Linked DNA regions of Homo sapiens. The protein of the gene in region 4 purifies or fractionates together with the protein of the main gene of each other region. This does not show direct contact. Each region holds a gene or a part of one and is shown on either strand. Other genes may lie near its edges. The genes, in order: EPHX1, ACSL3, NUDT21, ESYT1, SPTLC2, ATAD3A and DHRS7.

Region 1 (3,500 bases), on a different chromosome or scaffold from region 4:
GGAGCAAACTCCAGGGCCTCTGCAACCCCCCAGCAGAGTCCCAAACATCTGACATGTAGCCAATGGAGGACATGCAAGTGGTGGGGTTCCCAGCAGGGACCACCTCCTGCCTTGGGTTTCCAAGACAGAGCGAGGGGCGCTGCTGGGGCGTGGTTTGCAGGGGCCTTGTCAGAACTCGATGCTTTCTCCTCCGTCTGGGTCCTAACTGCAGTGCATCTAGAGACCCTCCTCTGACTCAGGCATAAGGACGGCCCGCATATTCATGCAGGTTACTCTGAACAAGAACAGTCTATGGGTTACTTCCCTAGGAATGAGGAAGATGAAGAGCTAGATAACAATGCTGGGCTGGTATCTGCCTGATAGTGCTTTGCCAAGACTATGGTTTCTTCCTCTTCTGATCAAAAAAGACACAGGAGTCAGACAAATGGGGATTAAAAGACAACTGAGTTGATGTGAAATGTAACAGGCAACACTATGGACACAGAAAGTAGATTAGAGGCTGCTTAGGACCTAACGTGGAGGGCAGTAGGGGAGCGACAGCTGAAGGGTATGGAGTTTCTCCGTGCCGATGAAAATGTTCTACAGTTGACTGTGGCTATGGCTGCACATGTCTGTGAATATCCTAGAAACCACTGGAGGGTTCACTTTAAATGGGCGAATTGTATGGTATATGAATTATGTTTCAATAAAGCTCTTACACAGCTAAGCTGTGTGGCCATGGCTGGGCTTCCTAGCAGTGTCCCCCAACCCCAAATTGAACTTACTCTCCCAGCACTTGGGCCTCCCCATTACCCCGTCTGCCCTGAGGATAAGCCTCTCTCCAAGAAGGACAGAGCAGGGGCTGTGGGCCACCATTCAGGAAAGGTGCTCCTCTCCCCTGGGGGAGGGAACCCAGAGGTCATGGACAGAAGCCTTCTCAGACATGCAAAAAACATGAGGCTGTCGGGCGCCGTGGCTCACACCTGTAATCCCAGCACTTTGGGAGGCCGAGGCGGGCGGATCACGAGGTCAAGAGATTGAGACCATCCTGGCTAACATGGTGAAACCCCATCTCTACTAAAAATACAAAAATTAGCTGGGTGTGGTGGCACGTGCCTGTAGTCCCAGCTACTCGGGAGGCTGAGGCAGGAGAATGGTGGGAACCTGGGAGGCAAAGGTTGCAATGAGCTGAGATTGTGCCACTGCACTCCAGCCTGGTGACACAGTGAAACTCCATCTCAAAAAAAAAAACAACATGAGGCCTCAGAAATGTAGCTCCCAAAACCCCCTACCCAGGGCTGTGCAGAAGCCAAACCAGGTTCCTATTTTCCCAGGATGATGAACAGTTTTCAAAGCTTAGTAGGATTGTGGGTGATTTTGTCTCATTGTCTGTTGTTTTTCCATTTTTCTAGATCATATATATATAATATTTATACTATATATAATATGTATATAGTGTGTGTATATATATATATAATATGTATATATTAGGTCAAGTGTAAATAAAATCAGGGACAGGGTTGGAGCGCAGCAGGAAAGAGCCTGCTGGGGATCAGAGTCTCTGGGCTGTCAGGGCCGGGCTGGGCGGGCTCCGTTGTTAATGGCTTCCCCTCATCTTGCAGGAGCCATGTGGCTAGAAATCCTCCTCACTTCAGTGCTGGGCTTTGCCATCTACTGGTTCATCTCCCGGGACAAAGAGGAAACTTTGCCACTTGAAGATGGGTGGTGGGGGCCAGGCACGAGGTCCGCAGCCAGGGAGGACGACAGCATCCGCCCTTTCAAGGTGGAAACGTCAGATGAGGAGATCCACGTAAGGCACCTTGGGCCGGGCCGGGCTGGGCAGTGGAGAGGGTGGTGTGTCGAAGACAGGGGTTGGGTCTTAGGCCAGATGCGGGAGGGGACGGGGGCTTGGGAATGGTCCATCCTACTTGGGAGTGTGTTTCAGTCTGCTTTTCCTCTGCTGGGCAGGTGCAGGTTGCTTTGGAGAGGGATGCCCAGCCCTCCCACTTTCTCTCTTCTCCTTTCCCTACCCAAGGCCCAGCAGTGCTCAGGCAGGAGATGGGGTAACCTGTATCAAAGGTCACAGAAAGCAGCTGTCATCACCTCCTCTATGCCCTGCCTGAAGCCTTGGGAGTGAGGTTGTGGGAGAAAGTGAGCAGGTTCCCGTCAGAGACCCAGGAAGCACTGAGAAGGCAGGGATGCTACTGGTTAGGCACCGGCTGTGTGTCAGCCATTCCTGGTCACATTCAATCCCTACGGTGATCCCGCGGGGTGAGGATTGTTGTTCCCAAACTGCAGATGCAGAAGCTGAAGCTCAGGGGCATAAAGCAACTCGTTCAAGGCGGCCTAGCTAACATGCGGAAGGATTTGAAGTCCAATCTAATCCTGAAGCTGCTGCCCCTCCTCTGCACAGGGATAGAGTCAGGAAGGAGGTGACTGGGCAGGTGGGGTGAACTGAGAATGCATTCTCGGGGAGGAGCAAGGCTTGAGTGGGGGACAGGACGGTAGGCAGGCCTGGCATGGCCCTGCCAATCCTTTCTTTCATTCCGTGGGTTTTGAGCACCTACTGTGTGCAGGCCCAGTGAGTGCTTGGGAGAAGAGACAGCCCCTTCCGTCCAACAGCATACAGTCCAGTGAATGAGAAAAGGAATGTGCACAAAGAAAAGTAGACTAAAAGATAAATAAAGATAGGCTAGGTGCGGTGGCTCACGCTTTTAATCCCAGCACTTTAGGAGGCTGAGGCGGTGGATCACCTGAGGTCAGGAGTTCAAGACCAGCCTGGCCAACATCGTGAAACCCCGTCTCTACTAAAAATACAAAAAATTAGCCGGGCATAGTGGCGGGCACCTATAATAATCCCAGCTACTCGGGAGGCTGAGGCAGGAGAATCCCTTGAACCCAGGAGGCAGAGGCTGCAGTGAGCCAAGATCACACCACTGCACTCTAGCCTGGGCAACAAGAGTGAAATGCCATCTCAAAAAAAGAAACAGATGCATAAGGATAAATGTCACAAAAAGCATGGATAAAAGTCATGAGAGTTCCAAGGAGGAAGAGATTTAAAAGCAGAAGCTGGGCTAAACCCAAGAGCAACCAGGCTGAGGCTCCCTGGGTAGGACTTGCTTGCTGCAGCCTTGCTATTTAGGGCCAAGGCTGAGCCCTAAGGAAAGCTCCTTTAGGGAATTAGACTCCTAAGGGAGTCTGAGATTTCCAAAATCTGTTTGGGGGTAACTGAAACACTTGGGAAGAAGCCTGGGAATGGTGATGCTTGAGAGGCTCTCTAAGCTGACATGAACTTCCTCCCTCTGGGGCTGGCCTTTTAGCCTAATACATGCCAATGAGACTTGCACCCTCTCTCCTGGTCTGTAAATTTTTTAGTTTTTGGAGACAGGGTCTTGCTCTGTCACCAGGCTGGGGTGCAGTGGTGCGATCTTGGCTCACTGCAACCTCCGCCTCCTGGGTTCAAGCGATTCTCCTGCCTCAGCCTCCCAAGTAGCTGGCATTACAGGCACCTGTCACCATGC
Region 2 (3,500 bases), on a different chromosome or scaffold from region 4:
CAGTATGCTGAACAAGAATACATGCAGTACCATCTATATAAAGTTTAAGAATACACAAAACAATACTATACACTGTCTAAGGAAACACACATGTGTAATAAAGCTGTACAGAAATACATAGGAATAATAAACACCAAATTCAGAGCAGTGGTTAGCTGTAAGATTTGGGGGAAAGGAGTGGGTTTCTTTAAGTGGATTAAATTTTATGAAATATTTTTCAAACATACAGAAAGTGCGTCAATATTTTAGTTAAAAGACAGGAAAAGAAAATGGAATTAGCAGACTATGGGATCCCAAATTCCTTTATATTCCAATCTAAAAAGTCAATAACAATTCCTGCGAAGTAAGGTTAAAGGGGAAAGCATCCTGAGGAATTATGTTCAAGTCCAAAAAGAAAATTCTAGGCCGGGCATGGTGGTTCACATCTGCAATCCCAGTACTTTGGGAGGCTGAGATGGGCAGATCACGAGGTCAGGAGTTAGAGACCAGCCTGGCCAACATGGTGAAACCCCATCTCTACCAAAAATACAAAAATTAGCCGAGTGTGGTGGTGGGTACTTGTAATTCCAGCTCCTCGGGAGGCTGCGGCAGGAGAATTGCTTGAACCCGGGAGGCGGAGGTTGCAGTGAGCAGAGATCACACCACTGCACTCCAGCATAGGTGACAGAGCAAGACTCTGTCTCAAAAAAAAAAAAGAAAAAGAAAAAAAAGAAAATTCTAGTTAAATTCTCTCAATTTCCTTATGATTTCCCCGGGGCGGGGGGGGGGGGGGGGGGGGGGGGCGGGGGGGGCAGGGCAGTTTTATTTGGGGCAGCAACTTTGTGTAATTAAAACAGACATAAAACTGCCCCTAAATGTCATCACAGCTCCTTTCCCTACACAATCATGCCTTCAAAGGTTAACATGAACTTCAAACTGTCACTCCAGAGAGGAGATGCAGCGCCCAGGTTAAGAACAGGGACTCTGGAACCAAAGTGCCTGGGATGAAATCCAGCACACATTTAGCACACAATCGTGCAAGTCACTTAAATTGCTCTGTGCTTCAGTTTCCTCAGCTGTAAAAATTAGAATGATAAAAGAACCTATTTTGCAGTCAGCGCAGTAGCTCCCAGCCTGTAATCCCAGTACTTTGGGAGGGCGAGGCGGGCGGATCACAAGGTCAGAAGATCAAGACCATCCTGACTAACATGGTGAAACCCCATCTCTACCGAAAATACAAAAAATTAGCCGGGCATGGTGGTGGGCACCTGTAGTCCCAGCTACTCAGGAGGCTGAGGCAGGAGAATGGCGTGAACCCGGGAAGCGGAGCTTACAGTGAGCCGAGATCATGCCACTGCACTCCAGCCAGGGGGACAGAGCGAGACTCCGTCTCAAAAAAAAAAAAGTACCTATTTTGCAAGGCTGAGATAAAAATTAGAACAGCATTTGGCCACAGTATACTATAAAGGTGTTGGCTATTATCCTTATTCCAAAGACCATTCATTTAGAAAAACAAAAACTAGGCTTTGTATCCAAATAATATAATTAAGTTCAGTTACTTTCTGCATCAAATAGGAGACAGAAAAGTTGACCATGACAGGACAGGGGAAAATGTGCAGCTTTTCACAGCTAGAGCAATCAACATGAGGATAGTAAGATAAGCAATTTTTAATTTTTCTAACAATATTCTTTGGTAGCGTTATAACATCTCCAATGCGTACACATCTGTGTACACACACACACACACACACACACACACACAGAGGATCCAAAATCAAGGTAAAACATTCTATTTCCTGGCTCCCTGTTGACCTGGGAAAACTCCAGTTCATCTTGGAAAACCTAGTTCAGCTATCATCTCCACTGAGAAGTCTCCCCTTTTCCTTCCCTACTCTGTGCCTGCTCTGCACTTTTTCTCTATTTCCTAGCAGATTCCACTGCTGCACTGATTATACCATCCTGTAATATATTTGCTCATATACCTTCTTCTGTTCCACCATGCTGTAATTTGTTCATACACCTCTTTCCTGTGGTGAACTGTGAGCTCCTTAAGAGCAGGAACTCGCCCAATCATTTCCAAATTCCGAGTACCTTGCAAAACAGACACTAAGTAAATACATGAATGAATGAATCCTTAATAACAAATACCTTCACAAACAAGCAGAAAGCTGTATTTGGAGGCCACTTATCCAAAAGGTTGGTTATTTAAGTATCTTCAATTCTAAACAAAAATTAGCAGATCAGTTGAAACTACTGAATCATCCAATTCTTTACCCTTCAAAATGGGAAACATCAAAAATACGTAAATAAACATATTCCAATAATAACAGAAGCTAAACTTTAAATTAAAAGAATTAAGGCACCTATGATGTCAGGAAAACAGAAACCGTCTGAAAGCTTTTTTCTAATGAAACCAAAAATAAACATGTAAGGAAGGCACCACAGGATTTAACATTTACAATGTCTCCTTTTTCAGAAAATAAATAAATTACAATCAAAAGTCAGATGAAAATATATACTCTATTGAGGGATGAAATTAAGACTGAGCCACATTTTAAATCAATCACACAATGCTCTTGCAACAAAGTTTTCTAAAAGACTGTCATGAGTCAACTAAAATTGGGCTAATTTTTAGAAATTTAACAGTTCTTGACAATTTTTGGCATTTGCTTAGTACTCCATAGGTTACAGGCCTGTATTCTGTTACTGTGGAAGGTGTCCCCTCCTCCCAGCAAAGACACAGGCCTCAGTTGTACTTTGGGTCCCATCCCAACCCCATCCTTTTAGGAACTCTGCACAAACCCTTTTCTAGTCTATATTCAACCACTCCCTCTCCACTGAGCCTTCCCATCAGCATTTAAACATGCTGAAATCAAACCTATTGGAAACAGTTTCTGTCTCCGTTTTCCTCACCTCCCACTGCTCCCCATCCCACCCCTACCTGCAGATCAGCATCTCTTTCAAAGGTCACCAGTGACCTCCATGTTGCTAAATTCAATGATGGTTCTCAATTCTTCTCTCATAGGAGCATTCCACAGTACTGACTCATCGCCTTGCAGGAACATCTGTTTCTGGCTGTCCTCTGACCTTCCTGGCCACTCTTGTCTCCTTGACAAGCTCAACCTCCTCTGCCCAGCTCCATCCCAGGCCTCCTTCTCTTCTTATTCTATAGCCTCCCCACAGGCAATCTCACCCATACCCATGGTTTGAGCTCTTGCCTCTACATGGAGGTCTTCAAAACGGTAAATGGCCACCCCAATTCTCAGCACAAAACCAGTACCTCAATAAAGGCCTCAAAGGCAGCTCCAGCTGAACACTTCCAAAACTAAAGTCATGCCCTTCCCATATCCAGAACCTAGTTCTCTACCAGTTAAGCCCCAGCTCAGTGAATAGCACACATACCTCTTTAGTTGCATAGGTCTGAAACCTAGTAATCACTTAGCACCTCTTTCTCCCACTCCATTTACTATTTATCACCATATCCTGACAATTTTTTATCTCCATTTTCTCAGTATTTCTGT
Region 3 (3,500 bases), on a different chromosome or scaffold from region 4:
CCTGGGTGGTGGAGGTTGCAGTGAGCCAAGATTGCGGCACTGCACTCCAGCCTGGGCAACAGAGCGAGACTCTGTCTCAAAAAAATAAAATAAAATAAAATGAAAATCAAGAAACTGTCATAAAAGAATATTTTGGCTGGGCATGGTGGCTCACACCTGTAATCCCAGTGCTTTGTGGGGCTGAGGCCGGAAGATTGCTTGAGGCCAGGAGTTGTAGTGAGCCATGATTGCGTCGCTGTGCTCCAGCCTGAGTGACAGAGCAAGACCCTATCTCTTAAAAAATGTAGTTTTGAGGCCCGGTGCAGTGGCTCATGCCTGTAAGCCCAGCACTTTGGGAGAGTGAGGTGGGCAGATCATCTGAGGTCAGGAGTTCGAGACCAGCCTGACCAACAGGGTGAAACCCCATCTCTACTAAAAAGACAAAAAATTAGCTGGGCATGGTAGCATGTGCCTGTAATCCCACCTACTCCGGAGGCTGAGACAGGAGAATCACTTGAACCTGGGAGGTGGAGGTTGCAGTGAGCCGATATTGCGCCATTGCACTCCAGCCTGGGCAATGAGCAAAACTCCGTCTCAAAAAAAAATTTTTTTTTTGAAAAATATGACTTTACATTGAAGAAACGTGATAAACAGTACCTCAGCCCATTAGTGATAAGCCATATTGATATAGCATGTACCTTTGATATGACGTGATGAGAATGGCCCTTTTACCTCTGTAGTTTTCTTCCCAAAAGCTCATAACTTCAATTTAATTGAGGGATGTTTTACAAAATACTTGACCAGTATTCCTCAAAGCTATCAAGATCATCAAACACAAGGAAGGTATGAAAAGCTGTCACAATGTAGAGGAACCTCGGAAGAAATGAAGATTAAGTGTAATATGGTATCTTAGATGGGATCCTGGGACTGAAAAATGAAAAAGGACATTAGGTTAAAGACTATGGATATCTGAATAATATATGGACTTCAGTTAATAATCTTGTCTTGGTATTGGTTGATTAGTTTGACAAATGTGCTTTACTAGTGTGAGATGTTAACAGTCGGGGAAACTGTGTGGGGTATATGAGAAGTCTCTGAACAAGTTTTGCAAGTTTTCTGTAAATCTAAAACTATCCTAAAATAAACCGTTTATTTAAGACCAAGAAGAATGCTTTTAAAAATAGAAGAAAACATGAGGGGAAAAACAACCAAGAGTTGAAAGTTACAGCCAGTGGGAATGGGTGAAGCAGGACAGAGAACTGCAGTTTCTCACCATGAACATTGTAGAACTATTTTTGGCCACTTAAAATATGTAGAGTATGACTTTGGTTAAAATAAGTTTAGTGTTCTGCTATACAAATTAATAAAAATGAAAGCTGAATTTTGAACACAATTTTTATGTTGATACTAGCTTGCCAGTTTTGAACTAATATTGTATGTCTTGGGCAGAGTGACATCTATATTAACAAATCATAGAAAATCTGTATGGAAGGCATATTATCCCTATGTTTCAATTAGGAGCACTGCTAAGAATTTTCTGTTCACTGAAGAAGGGGATTTGTGAGTACATATATTTAGTTGTTTACTGGCTTATTTCTTTTTGACAGATACTGGGTCGTCAGGATGGAGTTTTGCAAGACTGGGTCATTGACGATTGCATTGGTAACTGGTGGAGACCAAATTTTGAACCTCCTCAGGTCAGTGTTCAGTTACATTTGCTGGGCATTTTGGAAGCAGAAAGCTCGTTTAATTCTAGCCACTTTAAAAAAGATTAAAGTAGAATTTGACTTGAAATTTTCTTTTCTTCCCTCCTTAATTTAAATTACAAAATTAAGCCAAGCACTTCTTATTTTAAAGGAAAATGTAAAACAAATACAAGGCCGGGCGAGGTGGCTCATGCCTGTAATCCCAGCACTTCAGGAGGCCGAGGCGGGTGGATCACCTGTTGAGGTCAGGAGTTTGAGACCAGCCTGGCCAACATGGTGAAAGCTCGTCTCTACTAAAAAATGTAAAAATCAGCTGGGTTTGATGGTACAAGCCTGTAATCCCAGCTACTCCGGAGGCTGAGGCAGGAGAATTGCTTGAACCTGGGAGGCAGAAGTTGCAGTGAACCGAGATTGTGCCATTGCACTCCAGCCTGGACAACAGTGAGACTCCTTCTCAAAAAATAAATAAATAAATAGAACAAATACAAAAGAAGAGAGAATGGTAAAAGTGAATGAATTGCGCTACCCGTCGTCTGCCTTTAACAGTTAGCACATCACAACCCCTCATTCCACCGCTTCATTCTCCTACCCTCATCTTGGATTATTTTGAAGTGTATCCTAGCTATTCATTTCAATTGTAAATATTTCAGTGTGAATCATAAAAATAAGGATCTCTTTAAAAAGATAACTATAGTACTGTTATTATCATACTAAAAATAAACAATTCCATATTATTGTCAAATATATAGTCACTGTTCGCGTATCCTGATTATTTCTATTTTCTTTTTATAATTTGTTTGGATTAGGATAGTCTCTAAAGTCTCTTTTACACACTTGGCACCTTTTTTTTTTCCTTGTGTTTTATTTGTTAATGAAAACAGGCTAATGTTTCCATTTCGATTGCATTCCCCTGTTGTTGTTGAATATGTAGCTGTTTCCCCTGTGTGTCTTGCAAATTGATAGTTAGATCTAGAAATTGTATTCAGGCTCAGTTAATTTGGGGAGGGGTAACAAGGCTTGTCATAGGCGGTATATAATCTATACCTGCATAACAAATTACCTCAAAATTTAGCAGCCTTTAGGCCTCTGGGAGTTGCTTAGGGTGGTTCTGGCTTAGGCTCTGTCATGAAGTTACAGTCAAGTTGTCAGCTGGGACTGCATCATAAGGTGGAACTGGGGTTAAAGTATCTGATCCCGAGCTTACACGTGTGTGTGTTAGCAAACTTCTTAGTTTCATCTGGGCTGTTAGACTAAAGCTTTGCTTCAGGTGTTGCTGGCTGTTGTCTCAAGGTCTCCCTCAGTTCCTTGCCATGAGAACATCTCTAAAAGGACAACTCTCAGGCAGCTGGCTTACCCAAGGCTGTGTGATCCAAGAGATAGTGAGAGACAGAGTGCTAGAGGAGTGCCCAAGTAGGAAGCCTCAGTCTGTGATAACCTAATCTTGGCAGTGGCATACCATCACTTCTGCTGTGTGCTATTGGTCACACAAGCCAACCCTGGTACGCTATAGGAGGGACTACACAAAGCAGTGAATACCAGGAGACAGGAATCATTGGGGGTCATCTTAAGGCAGTCTATCACAATTGGTATAGTGTACTTCCATCAGGAATTTAAAAATATTTGGTTGTTTCTTGTTGTAATGTTAGCAGCTCATTGATGATCATTTCCTGGTCTATGAATTCATAAGGGTTGTGATCCTCATATAAAAAGAAACTTATGTATTACTGAAGTGTGTGGTTTGTGTAGAAAAAAAAAATATGCTGCTATTCCTTTACTTAACATTTTTCAGAAGAATGACTTAATTCCTTAGCATCC
Region 4 (3,500 bases):
TTTTGTATTTTTAGTAGAGACAGGGTTTCACCATGCTGGCCAGGCTGGTCTCGAACTCCTGACCTCAGATGATCCGCCTGCCTCAGCCTCCCAAAGTGCTGGGATTATAGGCATGAGCCACTGCACCTGGCCTTAGTTCATAGGTACTTGTTCTTGAATGATTTTATATATGTGTGTCTTGTCTATGAAACTGGCCAGTAAGCATTGTGAAAGCAGATGCTATGTTTCGTGCTTTCTCCATGACCTTTAAAATGCTGAATGTTAACAATTTTATTGAGGCATAATTTACATACCATAGAATCACTCATTTTAGGTATACAAAAATTATTCTGAGGCTGGGCACGGTACCTAAAATGAGTGATTTTATGGTATGTAAATTATGCCTCAATAAAATTGCTAACATTCAGCATTTTTTTTTTTTGAGACAGTTTCGCTTTTGTTGCCCAGGCTGGAGTGCAATGGCGTGGTCTCGGCTCACCGCAACCTCCACCTCCTGGGTTCAAGTGATTCTCCTGCCTCAGCCTCCTGAGTAGCTGGGATTACAGGGATGTGCCACCATGCCTGGCTAATTTTTTTTGTATTTTTAGTAGAGACGGGGTTTCTCCATGTTGGTCAGGCTGGTCTCGAACTCCCAACCTCAGGTGATCCGCCCGTCTCAGCCTCCCAAAGTGCTTGGATTACAGGCGTGAGCCACCGTGCCCGGCCCAACATTCAGCATTTTAAAGGTCATAGAAAAAGCACAAAACATAGTATCTGCCTTCACAATACTCACTGGCCAGTTTCAGTTTCATAGACAAGACATACACATATAAAATCATTCAAGAACAAGTACATATGAACTAAGGCCAGGCATGGTGGCTCACACCTGTAATCCTAGCACTTTGGGAGGCCAAGGCAGGTGGATCACCTGAGGTCAGGAGTTTGAGAATAGCCTGGTCAGCATGGTGAAACCCTATCTCTACTAAAAATACAAAAATTAGCCAGGCATGGTGGTGCGTGCCTGTAATCCCAGCTACTTGGGAGGCTGAGGTAGAATTGCTTGAGTCCGGGAGGCGGAGGTTGCAGTGAGCCAAGATAGCGTCACTGCACTCCAGCCTGGGTGACAGAGTGAGACTCCGTCTCAAAAAAAAAAAAAAAATCAAAAATTTGCCAGGTGTGGTGGCATGTGTCAGTAATCCCAGCTACTTGGGAGGCTGAGGCAGAAGAATCATTTGAACCCGGGAGGTAGAAGTTGTAGTGAGCTGATTTCAAGCACTGCACTCTAGCCTGGGTGACAGAGCAAGACTCTGTCTCCAAAAAAAAAAAAAAAAAAAAAAGGAACAGAAGAATAGCAACAATTACATATGAATTTGTGGGAGTAAAATATCCATAGTATAGGACTAAGGAGGGTCAGAGAAAGGGATAGGCTGGAGTAACTAGGGAGATTTTGTGAAGCAAAAAATTGGATTTTAATTGAGTCTTGAAGGATGAGTAGGATTTAAATAGGCCGAGGGAAGAGAATGAGGACTTTCCAAATAGTGGGAGCAGAATGAACAAAGGTGGAAGGGGCCATGGATTGGGCAGAGGACTATAAAAGATGGCTCTGGCCGAGGTGGGCGGATTGCCTGAGCTCAGGAGTTTGAGACCAGCCTGGGGAACACCATGAAACCCTGTCTCTACTAAAAAATACAAAAATTTAGCTGGGCGTGACGGCATGCGCCTGTAGTCCCAGCTATTTGGGAGGCTGAGGTAGGAGAATGGGTTGAACCCAGGAGGTCGAAGTTGCAGTGAGCCAAGATGGCGCCATTGCACTCCAGCATGGGCGACAGAGTGAGACTCTGTCTCAAAAAAAAAAAAAAAAAAAAGATGGCCCTGAGTGGAGCAGGAGGTTTGTGATTGGTACAGAGAGGAATGAAGTTGGAGCCATGTTATCATTTTCACAGTATGCCTCCCTTTCCCCTAATCCCTTCACTACAGTCCTTCCTCCTGTGCCTGTAGGTGAAGGATGATTCCAGGGCCCTGACTTTAGGAGCACTGACGCTGCCTCTGGCCCGCCTGCTGACTGCCCCAGAACTCATCCTGGACCAGTGGTTCCAGCTCAGCAGCTCTGGTCCAAACTCCAGACTCTATATGAAACTAGTCATGAGGGTATGGAAATAGAGGAGGTACTGAGGTGTGGGGGAAAGGCCTGTTGATTCTTTGGTATTAAGAGTAAGGAAAGGGACCCCCCTAAGATTAAAAGAGCTAATACATGTAGAAGTGCCAAGCAGGCACAAAAACATATATTGATCTGACTGGTGGAAGGAATGGCTTATGAGTTGAGGGGGTGTGGAGGGAACCCTGTAGAGATGAGCCCAGCCAGGGCAGCACCTAGTTCCCCTGTCACAGCCCCTCCTCTACCCCACCCCACATGCTTTGCCTGCTGGTGACGAGCTGCACTTCTTTGATTCAGCATCATACTACCCTTCCTAGATCCTGTACTTGGATTCATCAGAAATATGCTTCCCCACGGTGCCTGGTTGTCCTGGTGCTTGGGACGTGGACAGTGAGAATCCCCAGAGAGGCAGCAGTGTGGATGCCCCACCTCGACCCTGTCACACGACTCCTGATAGCCAGTTTGGGACTGAGGTGAGTCTATATCTGGAAAGGACTAGGGTCTGTTTGCCCCGCTAAGTATGCAAAGCCTGTTTCAGGGCAGATTCTGACAGGTCTCTCTCCCTTTGCCATCTGGCACCCCCCCGTCCCTTTTGCAGCATGTGCTTCGGATCCATGTATTAGAGGCCCAGGACCTGATTGCCAAAGACCGTTTCTTGGGGGGACTGGTGAAGGGCAAGTCAGACCCCTATGTCAAACTAAAGTTGGCAGGACGAAGCTTCCGGAGCCATGTTGTTCGGGAAGATCTCAATCCCCGCTGGAATGAGGTTTTTGAGGTCAGAATTGAGTGGCTGTGACTCCTGGTTCTGCCCCATTTTTCCCCCAATCCCAAAAGTGGTCCAGAAACCTCTGAGGTTCAGTTGACTGGGGGGTCCAGTCATTTGCAGAGGAAAAGGAGAGAATCTTTCATCTGCACTATTTTCTCCCACTAGGTGATCGTCACATCAGTTCCAGGCCAAGAGCTAGAGGTTGAAGTCTTTGACAAGGACTTGGACAAGGATGATTTTCTGGGCAGGTGAGAGCATAGGAGTCTACGTGAAAAACAGGCTGGGGCTCTTTAGGCCATGGAGTCTGGCCTCCTTGGTTCTCACCATCTAGCTTTTGTCTTAATCTTTCTCTTCAACAGGTGTAAAGTGCGTCTCACCACAGTCTTAAACAGTGGCTTCCTTGATGAGGTGAGCATTGAATTAGAGTCAACAACCCCTCCTGATCCTGCCCAAGCTTCATTCTCAAAGTTCTCCTGTCTGCATATCCCCAAGTCTTCACCCTGCCTACTTCCACAGTGGCTGACCCTGGAGGATGTCCCATCTGGCCGCCTGCACTTGCGCCTGGAGCGTCTCACCCCCCGTCCCACTGCTGCTGAGTTA
Region 5 (3,500 bases), on a different chromosome or scaffold from region 4:
AGAAACGTCTAGGATCACTTTACACTCTCAAGAGTATGTTTCTGTGCTTGAAGAGATGAATGAATGTGTATAGTAAAAGAACAACTCTTGGATTTGGGTTTAGAATTTGATGAGCTAGATGCTGTGTTAAGGAGTTATGAAACAATCACACATTGCTGTTTAGTGATGACAGTAGACACACAGTTTTCACAATAGTAACAGTTGAACAATAGAGCAGTAATTTTTCCTCTCTGCTATTCAGATGAGTGGGAGGAGCACAAACCTTTATTTGAGGTAAGGTGTGGCAATTTGCCCGAGGGAAACTTTTACATTAGCATTGGAAAGAACCTTTGGGAGTTTATTTAATTCAGTCCTTTATCTCTTTGTAGGAGTTTATTAAAATCAGTCTTGATAGAAAATTCTGTACTGTTTTTAAAGATCTCCAGGGGATTTGCAGCAAGTTTTTCTCTATAGCAAATTGGATTATTATTCCATGATCTTAATTACCAAATTTCTTCCTGTGGATTTAACATTTGATGAAATAAATGCCATGTTTTGGTTGCACCTGAAATATAGTAGTTTGTTTGTGTGTTTGTTTTTAAAACTTCACGTTAACAGCTCTTTTTAAAAGAGCTTCCATTTCTTTATAGAAGTTTTGAGATTTAGGTTTTCCTTTTACTTTCCTGAGTTAGTTAATAAGTGTGAAAGAAAAAAAGTTATCTACCTTTGAGACAGTTTTGACCCTAACTTTTTTCCCTTTGGGTGTAGTTTTAATGAGATATTAGAAGGATGAGAGCTCTCTGGCTTACAGAATAAAAAATTCTATCTCAAGGAATTGGGGCAAAAGTTGTGTTCTTATGTTAAATAATAAGCAAAGTAGAAAGAACAAAGTGTTAGTCTTGCTTCTTAGGAGGAGGCAAATAAATAACTAATAAAGCTGGTTTACTAAATAGCTACTAGCTTTTGTTTCCACTGAGGGAGAAACAGTAACTGGGGGTTTATATGTGATAGTTAAGGAAAAGGAGACGATAGTTATGAGGCTAGAACAGTAGAAATAGTTAGAATAGTCATATATCTATTTAGATTTAGCAGATCCTGATAAGATACCTCAGATACCTGAAGGCTTTTCAGAAATAATGTAATTTACAACTTGGAGGACAAGATTTTCATTTCAGTTTTCACTCTAAGGGGAAGCATATCTTGATTCTTACATAGCTGCATCTGAAGAATTCCAGAGTTATTTGAGATACTCAGGAATTTTCTTTAACAGGAATTCTTGGGAAATGTGTAAGCAGCTATGTTCTTAAGATAGTATTTTAGAACTAGGATGTTCAGAAAAGTCAGACTTGCCCACTTTTTAGGGTTTGCCCATGTGCCATAGAAATTTGCACCGCTTTGAGCAAGACAGTTAATTGGTTGATTTAATTAGATTCAGTTTTTGGAAGAAAGAAGCAGTGTTTATTGGTAGAATAGGCAATTCAGAGGGATGGGTAGAGGCACTGTTTGCATTCTGAGTGGGTGTGCCATACTTGATTAAATAAATGGTTTGTGGACTCAAAGTCAGTTCCCTTCTGGGTAGTTTCTGAGAAGCTTCTGTAATATAATTCACAATTTGTGACCGATAAAAAAGTAAGTCCTTTGCTCTTGACCCATTTACTGTTAGAAAATTTATCTTAAGTTTGTCTTTAAGACTACTTTTTATTGCAAAGCTTGAGGCAGCTATTCTTCCTTTTTTAAAAAAATAATTTTTACTTCTCATTATAGAAATAATACATGTTTAATGTGGGATCATAAAACATTGAGATAATCTCTGCGTTAGGTTTTTTTTTTTTTGAGACGGAGTCTCACTCTGTCGCCCAGGCTGGAGTGCAGTGGCGCCATCTCAGTTCACTGCAGCCTCCACCTCCCGGGTTCAAGCGATTCTCCAGCCTCAGCCTCCTGAGTAGCTGGGATTACAGGCATGCGCCACCACGCCTGGCTGATTTTTGCATTTGTAGTAGAGACAAGGTTTCACAGTGTTGGCCAGGCTGGTCTCGAACTCCTGACCTCAGGTGATCCACCTGCCTCCGCCTCCCAAAGTGCTGGGATTACAGGCGTGAGCCACCACGCCTAGCCGGAGGTTTGTTTTTTAATGTGGTCTATTGTAAATCCATCTGCTACTTTCCGTTAATTTCTTTTCTTTCTTTTTTTTTTTTTTTTTGGCGAGATAGGGTCTCGCTCCAGCCTGGCCTGCAGTAGCACAGTCATAGCTTACTGCGGCCTCAACTTCTCGGGCTCAAGCGATCCTCCCATCTCAGCCTCCCAAGTAGCTGGGTCCACAGGTGTGCACCACTACAGTGGGCTAATTTTTTTTTTTGAGACAGAGTCTTGCTCTGTCACCCAGGCTGGAGTGCAGTGGCGCGATCTTGGCTCACTGCAAGCTCTACTTCCCAGGTTCACACCATTCTCCTGCCTCAGCCTCCCGAGTAGCTGGGACTACAGGTGCTCACCAACACACCCGGCTAATTTTTTTTTTTTTTTTGTATTTTTAGTAGAGACAGGGTTTCCCCATGTTAGCCAGGATGGTCTCGCTCTCCTGACCTTGTAATCCGCCTGCCTCAGTCTCCCAAAGTGCTGGAATTACAGGCTTGAGCCACCATGCCTGGCCTTTTTTTTTTTTTTTTTTTGTAGAGATGGGTCTTACTATGTTCCCCAGGCTAGTCTCTTTTTTACTTAAACAAACAAACAAAAATAAATAAAAATATATATATATAAAGAGAGAGGGAGACAGAGAGAGAGGGAGACAGAGTCTCACTATGTTGCCCAGGCTGATCTCAAACTGTTGGGTACAATCGATCCTCCTGCCTTGGCCTCCTGAAGTGCTGAGATTATAGGTGTGAGCCACCGCACCCAGCCACCCAGGCTGGTCTCAGACTCCTGACCACAAGCATCCTCCTGCTTCAGCCTACCAAAGTGCTGGGATTACAGCCACTGTAGCAGACTATTTTGTGATAATTTCTAAGTACAGTGAAATATGCGGTTGTACTGATACTATGGGTGTGATCCAGTCTTACTCCAAAAAATAGGTATTAAGGGCTGGGCACAGTGGCTCATACCTGTAATCCCAGCACTAAGGGAAGCCAAGGTGTAAGGATTGCTTGAGCCCAGGAGTTCAAGATCAGCCTGGGCAACGTGGCGAGACCCCATCTCTATTTAATTAAAAAATAATAAGGTATATGACCAGGTACCGTGGCTCACGCCTGTAATCCCAGCACTTTGGGAAGCCGAGATGGGCGGATCACTTGAGGTCAGGAGTTTGAGACCAGCCTGGCCAACATGGTGAAACCCCGTCTCTACTAAAAATGTAAAAATTAGCCGGGTGTGGTGGTGTGTGCCTATAATCCCAGCTACTCTGGGAGTCTGAGGTAGTAGAATCGCTTGAACCCAGGAGGTGGAAGTTGCAGTGAGCCAAGATGGTGCCACTGCACTTCAGCTTGGGCGACAGTGAGACTCTGTCTCAACAAAACAAAACAAAACAAAAC
Region 6 (3,500 bases), on a different chromosome or scaffold from region 4:
CGGGTACACACACACACACACACACACACCCAAACGGGTGCACAACCCACCCACACATGGGCACAATCACCCCCACACACATGGGCACAGTCACCCGCCTGCACATTCGGGCACCGTCACCCCCCGCAAACGGGCACCGTCACACCCCGCAAACGGGCACACTCACCCCCCTGCACACTCGGGCACAGTCATCCCCCGCACACATGGGCACAGTCACAGGTTTTAAAGGCTTTTCTCTTTTTCTGCGGCTTCTTCTCAGCAACTTCTCAATGAGGAGAATTTACGGAAGCAGGAGGAGTCCGTGCAGAAGCAGGAAGCCATGCGGCGAGGTAGGCTGTCTGCTCTCCTGGCTGGGGCGGAGGTGGCGGGGGCTGCTTGTGGACCCGGCGTGCACTCTGAGCCTGAGTTCTGCCGCCCGGCCCCTCATAGCTACCAGTGCAGTGGGCGAGGCCTGCTGGGGCTCCGCGGGGTGGGGCTGCCTCTCGGAAGACACCTCTGTCTGCGAGTGGACGCCAGGATCTGTTCAGGGAGGGCAGGAGCTGCTTCACTTCATGGGAAGTACAGGGGCCTTTTTTTTTTTTTTGAGACGGAGTCTCGCTCTGTCACCCAGGCAGGAGTGCAATAGCACGATCTCAGCTCACTGCAACCTCTGCCTCCCAGGTTTAAGCAATTCTCCTGCCTCAGCCTCCCGAGTAGCTGGGATTATAGGCTCCCGCCACCACGCCCAGCTAATTTTTTTGTATCTTCAGTAGAGAAAGGGTTTCACTGTGTTGGCCAGGCTGGTCTTGAACTTCTTGATCTCATTATCCGCCTGCCTTGGCCTTCCACAGTGCTGGGATTACAGGCGTGAGCCTCTGCGTTCTGCCTAGAACATGGGTCTTTACTGTCCTGGTTTCAGTGGGGATCACAGGTATTTGGTGCCATGTGGCATTTGTTGGCGAGTGCTCCAGGCAAACGTCTGTCACCACTCTTCACCGTGGGTGGGCTTGTGGCGAGGTGTGTGCGTTTAATGTTCAGTAGCCAGGCACGTGGCACGTCACGCGTGTCTGAGTTCTGACAGCTGTGTTTCTGTGTGAGGGGGGCTTCCTTCAGAACTCCGCGTTCTGGTTTTTTGCTTCAAAGAGCTCGTCCTGAGAAGTTGCCTAGGCCTCTGGGTCGGATTTCTGCCCTAATCCATGGGCAGGGCCGGCCTGTGGCGCTGTCCCTACCAAGGTCTGTGTGTGTCTGTGGCATGGACCTGTCCGTGGCCTTAGCCTATTGGCGGCGTGGGCCTGTCTGTGGCGTGGGCCTGTCCGTGGCCTTAGCCTGTCAGCAGTGTGGGCCTGTCCATGGCGTGGGCCGGTCCGTGGCATGGGCCTGTCTGTGGCGTTGGTCTGTCCGTGGCGTGGGCCGGTCCGTGGCGTGGGCCGGTCCACAGTGTGGGTGGAGGTGGACGCGCTGCACTGCATGGTGCTGAGCTGCCCTGCCTCTCTGGGGCAGCCACCGTGGAGCGGGAGATGGAGCTGCGGCACAAGAATGAGATGCTGCGAGTGGAGGCCGAGGCCCGGGCGCGCGCCAAGGCCGAGCGGGAGAATGCAGACATCATCCGCGAGCAGATCCGCCTGAAGGCGGCCGAGCACCGTCAGACCGTCTTGGAGTCCATCAGGTGAGCACTGCCGAGGCCCGGGCCGGCCACAGATGGAGCCCCGCAGGTGTGAGTCGCTGGTCCCAGGGCGCTCTCCAGCTCTTCCAGGCCTTGCCGCCGTAGGCTGACTCCTTGGTGGGGGCACTGCCCCTCTGTCCTGGCAAGGCCGTGCCGCCATGTCAGGGCCTCACCCTCAACCTGCTCTCGCTGCGTGGCACGGATCTTCGTGTCCTTCCTGGTCACACCACTGCTTTCCCCGCAGGACGGCTGGCACCTTGTTTGGGGAAGGATTCCGTGCCTTTGTGACAGACTGGGACAAAGTGACAGCCACGGTAAACATACTCATAAAACAGGGCTGGCAGGTGGCTGAGGGGCAGCATGTGGGGGCCTCCTGGAGCCCCAGGTCCTGTCCCTGCCGGCTCTGCACAGCCCTGTAGCTCTCCCAGCAGGGAGGAAGCCCACGTTGTACCTGCTGGCCTCGGCTTCTCCTCCCTTCTCAAGCTGGGAGAAGAAAACGCAGTTGCCAGCCTGGGCCACACAGTGAGACCCCATCTCTACAAAAAATCAAATATTAGCTGGGTGTGGTGGCAGCCCCTGTGGTCCCACTACTCAAGAGGCTGAGGTAGGAGGATCACTTAAGCCCAGGGAGGTTGCAGCTGCACTGAGCTGAGATCGCAGCACTGCACTCCATCCTGGGCGACAAAGTCCTTGTCTCAAGAAAAAAATTGTCGATAGTCGTGGCTCACACCTGTAATCCCAGCACTTTGGGAGGCAGAGGCAGAGGCGGGCGGATCACGATATCGGGATCGAGACCATCCTGGCTAACACGGTGAAACCCCGTCTCTACTAAAAAAATACAAAAAATTAGCCGGGCGCAGTGGCGGGCGCCTATAGTCCCAGCTACTCAAGAGGCTGAGGCAGGAGAATCACCTGAACCCGGGAGGCGGAGCTTGCAGTGAGTCGAGATCACGCTACTGCACTCCAGCCTGGGCCACATAGTGAGGCTTCTTCTCAAAAAAAAAAAAAAAAAAAAAAAAAAAAAAACCAGAAGGCAACCCTGACTCCATTTTGCAAAAACCTTCTTTATTCCTTATAAAACCCTGAGAGTTTGAAGTTCACAGATTCTTCTCTCGTTTAAAGCCTCACTCTTTTGTGCCCAGCCTCCGGCCTGCTGTGGTGGCGCCCCACGTCCCACATGGCTGTGTCCTCCGTCCCCACCCCGCCCAGCACACGGTAGGTGCCCGGCACTGAGTGGGCACTTGCTCTGCCGTGGTGCCGGCGCCCAGAGCTGTGACTGCAGCGCCTGCCGGTGGCCTGGTCAGTGTGACGGTGAATGTTGCAGGTGGTGTTGCCACCATGTTGGTGAGACCGTGTCACGTGAGGACATGACGGAGCTGCTTAATGCGCCGATGACTTTTGTTTGTTTGTTTTTAGAGACAGGGTCTTGCTCTGTGGTCAGACTGGAGTGCAATGGTGCCATCTCGGCTCACTGCAACCTCCACCTCCCCAGTTCAAGCAGTTCTCCTGCCTCAGCCTCCCAAGTGACTGGGATTACAGGCTCACGTCACCACACTCAGCTAATATAGGCCTGTGCCACCAGGCCCGGCCAATTTTTGTATTTTTAGTAGAGATGGGTTTTCACCATGTTGGCCAGGCTGGTCACGAACTTCTGACCTTAAGTGATCCAGCCGTCTTGGCCTCCCAAAGTGCTGGGATTACACGGGTGAGCCACCGGGCCTGGCCTAATTCATTTTTTGTTTGTTTGTTTTTTGAGACAGAGTTTTGCTCTTGTTGCATAGGCTGGAGTGTAGTGGCGCGGGTCCAGCTCATTGCAACCTTTGCCTTCCGGGTTCAAGAGATTCTCCTGCCTCAGCCT
Region 7 (2,390 bases), on a different chromosome or scaffold from region 4:
TACATATCCATGTTGTTATGTATGCATTTATTCCATTGCTTCTACCCGCTATACCTCATCGTGTACCTCTACCACATGTCATCTTCCCCCTTTTCCAAGGACAGCCACTTGGGTGGCTTCCAACTTGCCCAACAACTATTCTACAGTTATTTTATGTATGTTACTTTGGCTCCAGCTCAATTGTGAACTGCTTGTAGATAAGGACCATGTTTTTCTTTACCTGTTACTCCTGCTGATTTCCTATTAGTGCCTGTGCATGTTTTCTGCTGTAAGGTGTTAAATGTTAAAGTAAAATTAATAATAGTAGAAGTAAGGAGTTGCCAGTGGAATCTTCCTGAGCTGAATCTAATCATGGCTTTACCCCTTACTAGCTTTGTGACCTTGACCTTGGAAAAGTAAAACCTTGTTGGTCTTTCTTCATCTATCAAGGTAGGTAATACCATCTATCTTAGTGGGCTGTTATGAGGAATGAGTTAATTAACTAATACTAAGCACTCCAGTACAGTAGAAGACATACAACAGGTGTTTAATGAATAATAGGTGCAATGAATCCTACCTGCTGCTTCAAATTACAGCCATCTGTACCTGTCAACTTTTCTAAGAGTATAAGCATCTTGGAGGTAAGGTCATTTCAAATACTTCTTTATATCTGGTCATTACCCAGCACTCTGCTTTGTGTGAAATATTCTATACATTTATGTTGCTATGGTTTGGATGTTTTTGTCCCCTCCAAAATTCATGTCGAAACTTAATCCCCAAAGCAACAGTATTAAAGGATGTGGCCTTTAAGAGGTGACTGAGTAATGAATGAGATTAAATGCTCTTTTGAAAGCATTTTGCTCCTCTTTCCCTTCTGTCCCTTCCACCATGTGAGGACATACATTCCTCCACTGTGGAGGATGCAGCAATGAGGTGCCATCTTGGAAGCAGAGATCAGCCTTCACCAGACACTAATTCTGCTGGTGCATTGGTCTTGGAATTCCCAGCCTCAAGAGCCAGGAAAAACAGATTTCTGTTGTTTATAAATTACCAAATCTGTGGTATTTTGTTATAGCAGCACAAATGGACTAAGACAAATCTGTTAACTTAGATTTTAAGCATATGTGCTAAAGTATTTTAAAAGGTTATTTTATCCAAGAATATAGTATGAGTTAATACCTTTTTTGCAAGATTCATGGCAATCTTTTATTATTTATTTTTTATTTCATTCCATGTTGGAAGCAAAGTCATATCTATTAAAAAGTAAAATCACAAATTAGTCTTTGATTATTCAGAAGCATAAGAAGATTGCTGTTTTCATGTTTTCCATTTCTCCCTCCAGTGGCTTGAAAAGTACAGGTGCTCTTTTCAGTCATGTTTTGTCTTAAAGATTTTAAAATAAGAAGAGTCTGCATCCTGTAAAAGAGGGACAGAAACATGGATCAGTACCTACTCCTATTTACTCCAGTTTTTAACATTTAAGTCCTTCTGTTTTGAGGAGCTGTATCATTATGATTCACTATTAAGAATCTTTACAAAAGTTCAGAAACTGCTTAAATTAGAATTTAAAAATCATAGCCAAAATTCTAGATGTACACAAAAGTACTTCTAATGAGTTTAGCATCATCTCTGGTTTAGAGGAGGTATAAATAGCATTGGACTGCAATGCTAAATTCTCTATAATGACTTTTCTGGATCAGCATATCATACCTACACTGACTTGCCCTAATAAATAAAAACAATGAGTCAGATTATGTAGAATTGAGATATATGGAAGATAACTCTTTAAAATTATTTGTGGCCAGGCAGGCACTGTGGCTCATGCCTGTAATCCCAGCACTTTGGGAGGCCGAGGTGGGCAGATCACCTGAGGTCAGGAGTTAGAGACCAGCCTGGCAAAACCCCATCTCTACTAAAAATACAAAAATTAGCTGGGTGTGGTGGTGTGCACCTGTAATCCCAGCTACCCGGGAGGCTGAGGCAAGAGAATTGCTTGAATCCAGGAGGCGGAGGTTGCAGTGAGCTGAGACTGCGCCATTGCACTCCAGCCTGGCCAACAAGAGGGAAACTCTGTCTCAAAAAAAATAAAAAGAAAAAAAAATTATTTGTGAACTTTTTGTATATTGCTTAAGGAATAAAACAAGGCAACCTGATAATCCCCAAGATGTGATGTTTCTTTTCAGAAGATATGCATTTACCACTTTCAAAACTTTGCACTAAGAAAGACAAAATAATAATAATGATAATACAAAATTCAGTGTAGCCACTGTTCTTGATCCCTAAAAATAATAAAGATTCATAAAAACAAAGTTCCAGACATACAGACTAAAGAAGCAAATTCTAGTTAACAAGTACTATTAGCTTGAAATAAGCTATGCTAGCATTTTCTTAACTTAGACGCTTATCAATAA

The links.
Region 1: the proteins of ESYT1 (region 4) and EPHX1 purify together in Homo sapiens (affinity purification with mass spectrometry; one large-scale study listed by BioGRID and IntAct). This does not show direct contact.
Region 2: the proteins of ESYT1 (region 4) and ACSL3 purify together in Homo sapiens (affinity purification with mass spectrometry, with the first as the bait; one study listed by BioGRID). This does not show direct contact.
Region 3: the proteins of ESYT1 (region 4) and NUDT21 purify together in Homo sapiens (affinity purification with mass spectrometry, with the first as the bait; one study listed by BioGRID). This does not show direct contact.
Region 5: the proteins of ESYT1 (region 4) and SPTLC2 purify together in Homo sapiens (affinity purification with mass spectrometry, with the first as the bait; one study listed by BioGRID). This does not show direct contact.
Region 6: the proteins of ESYT1 (region 4) and ATAD3A purify together in Homo sapiens (affinity purification with mass spectrometry, with the first as the bait; one study listed by BioGRID). This does not show direct contact.
Region 7: the proteins of ESYT1 (region 4) and DHRS7 purify together in Homo sapiens (affinity purification with mass spectrometry, with the first as the bait; one large-scale study listed by BioGRID). This does not show direct contact.

Annotation. Positions count from the first base shown.
Region 1 is NC_000001.11:225,827,124-225,830,623, forward strand, and holds part of EPHX1 (epoxide hydrolase 1), read left to right. Parts: intron 1-1,601; 5' UTR 1,602-1,606; coding exon 1,607-1,789; intron 1,790-3,500. UniProt on the Homo sapiens protein: Biotransformation enzyme that catalyzes the hydrolysis of arene and aliphatic epoxides to less reactive and more water soluble dihydrodiols by the trans addition of water.
Region 2 is NC_000002.12:222,864,036-222,867,535, reverse strand, and holds part of ACSL3 (fatty acid CoA ligase Acsl3), read right to left. Parts: intron 1-3,500. UniProt on the Homo sapiens protein: Acyl-CoA synthetases (ACSL) activates long-chain fatty acids for both synthesis of cellular lipids, and degradation via beta-oxidation.
Region 3 is NC_000016.10:56,437,833-56,441,332, reverse strand, and holds part of NUDT21 (cleavage and polyadenylation specificity factor subunit 5), read left to right. Parts: intron 1-1,586; coding exon 1,587-1,676; intron 1,677-3,500. UniProt on the Homo sapiens protein: Component of the cleavage factor Im (CFIm) complex that functions as an activator of the pre-mRNA 3'-end cleavage and polyadenylation processing required for the maturation of pre-mRNA into functional mRNAs.
Region 4 is NC_000012.12:56,134,767-56,138,266, forward strand, and holds part of ESYT1 (extended synaptotagmin-1), read left to right. Parts: intron 1-1,977; coding exon 1,978-2,127; intron 2,128-2,451; coding exon 2,452-2,607; intron 2,608-2,732; coding exon 2,733-2,909; intron 2,910-3,065; coding exon 3,066-3,148; intron 3,149-3,259; coding exon 3,260-3,308; intron 3,309-3,416; coding exon 3,417-3,500. UniProt on the Homo sapiens protein: Binds calcium (via the C2 domains) and translocates to sites of contact between the endoplasmic reticulum and the cell membrane in response to increased cytosolic calcium levels.
Region 5 is NC_000014.9:77,610,138-77,613,637, reverse strand, and holds part of SPTLC2 (serine palmitoyltransferase 2), read left to right. Parts: intron 1-3,500. UniProt on the Homo sapiens protein: Component of the serine palmitoyltransferase multisubunit enzyme (SPT) that catalyzes the initial and rate-limiting step in sphingolipid biosynthesis by condensing L-serine and activated acyl-CoA (most commonly palmitoyl-CoA) to form long-chain bases.
Region 6 is NC_000001.11:1,518,662-1,522,161, forward strand, and holds part of ATAD3A (ATPase family AAA domain-containing protein 3A), read left to right. Parts: intron 1-259; coding exon 260-329; intron 330-1,479; coding exon 1,480-1,645; intron 1,646-1,886; coding exon 1,887-1,956; intron 1,957-3,500. UniProt on the Homo sapiens protein: Essential for mitochondrial network organization, mitochondrial metabolism and cell growth at organism and cellular level. May play an important role in mitochondrial protein synthesis. May also participate in mitochondrial DNA replication.
Region 7 is NC_000014.9:60,143,619-60,146,008, forward strand, and holds the end of DHRS7 (dehydrogenase/reductase SDR family member 7 isoform 1 precursor), read right to left. Parts: exon of another isoform or gene 1,396-2,390; coding exon 1,348-1,395; 3' UTR 501-1,347; downstream 1-500. UniProt on the Homo sapiens protein: NADPH-dependent oxidoreductase which catalyzes the reduction of a variety of compounds bearing carbonyl groups including steroids, retinoids and xenobiotics.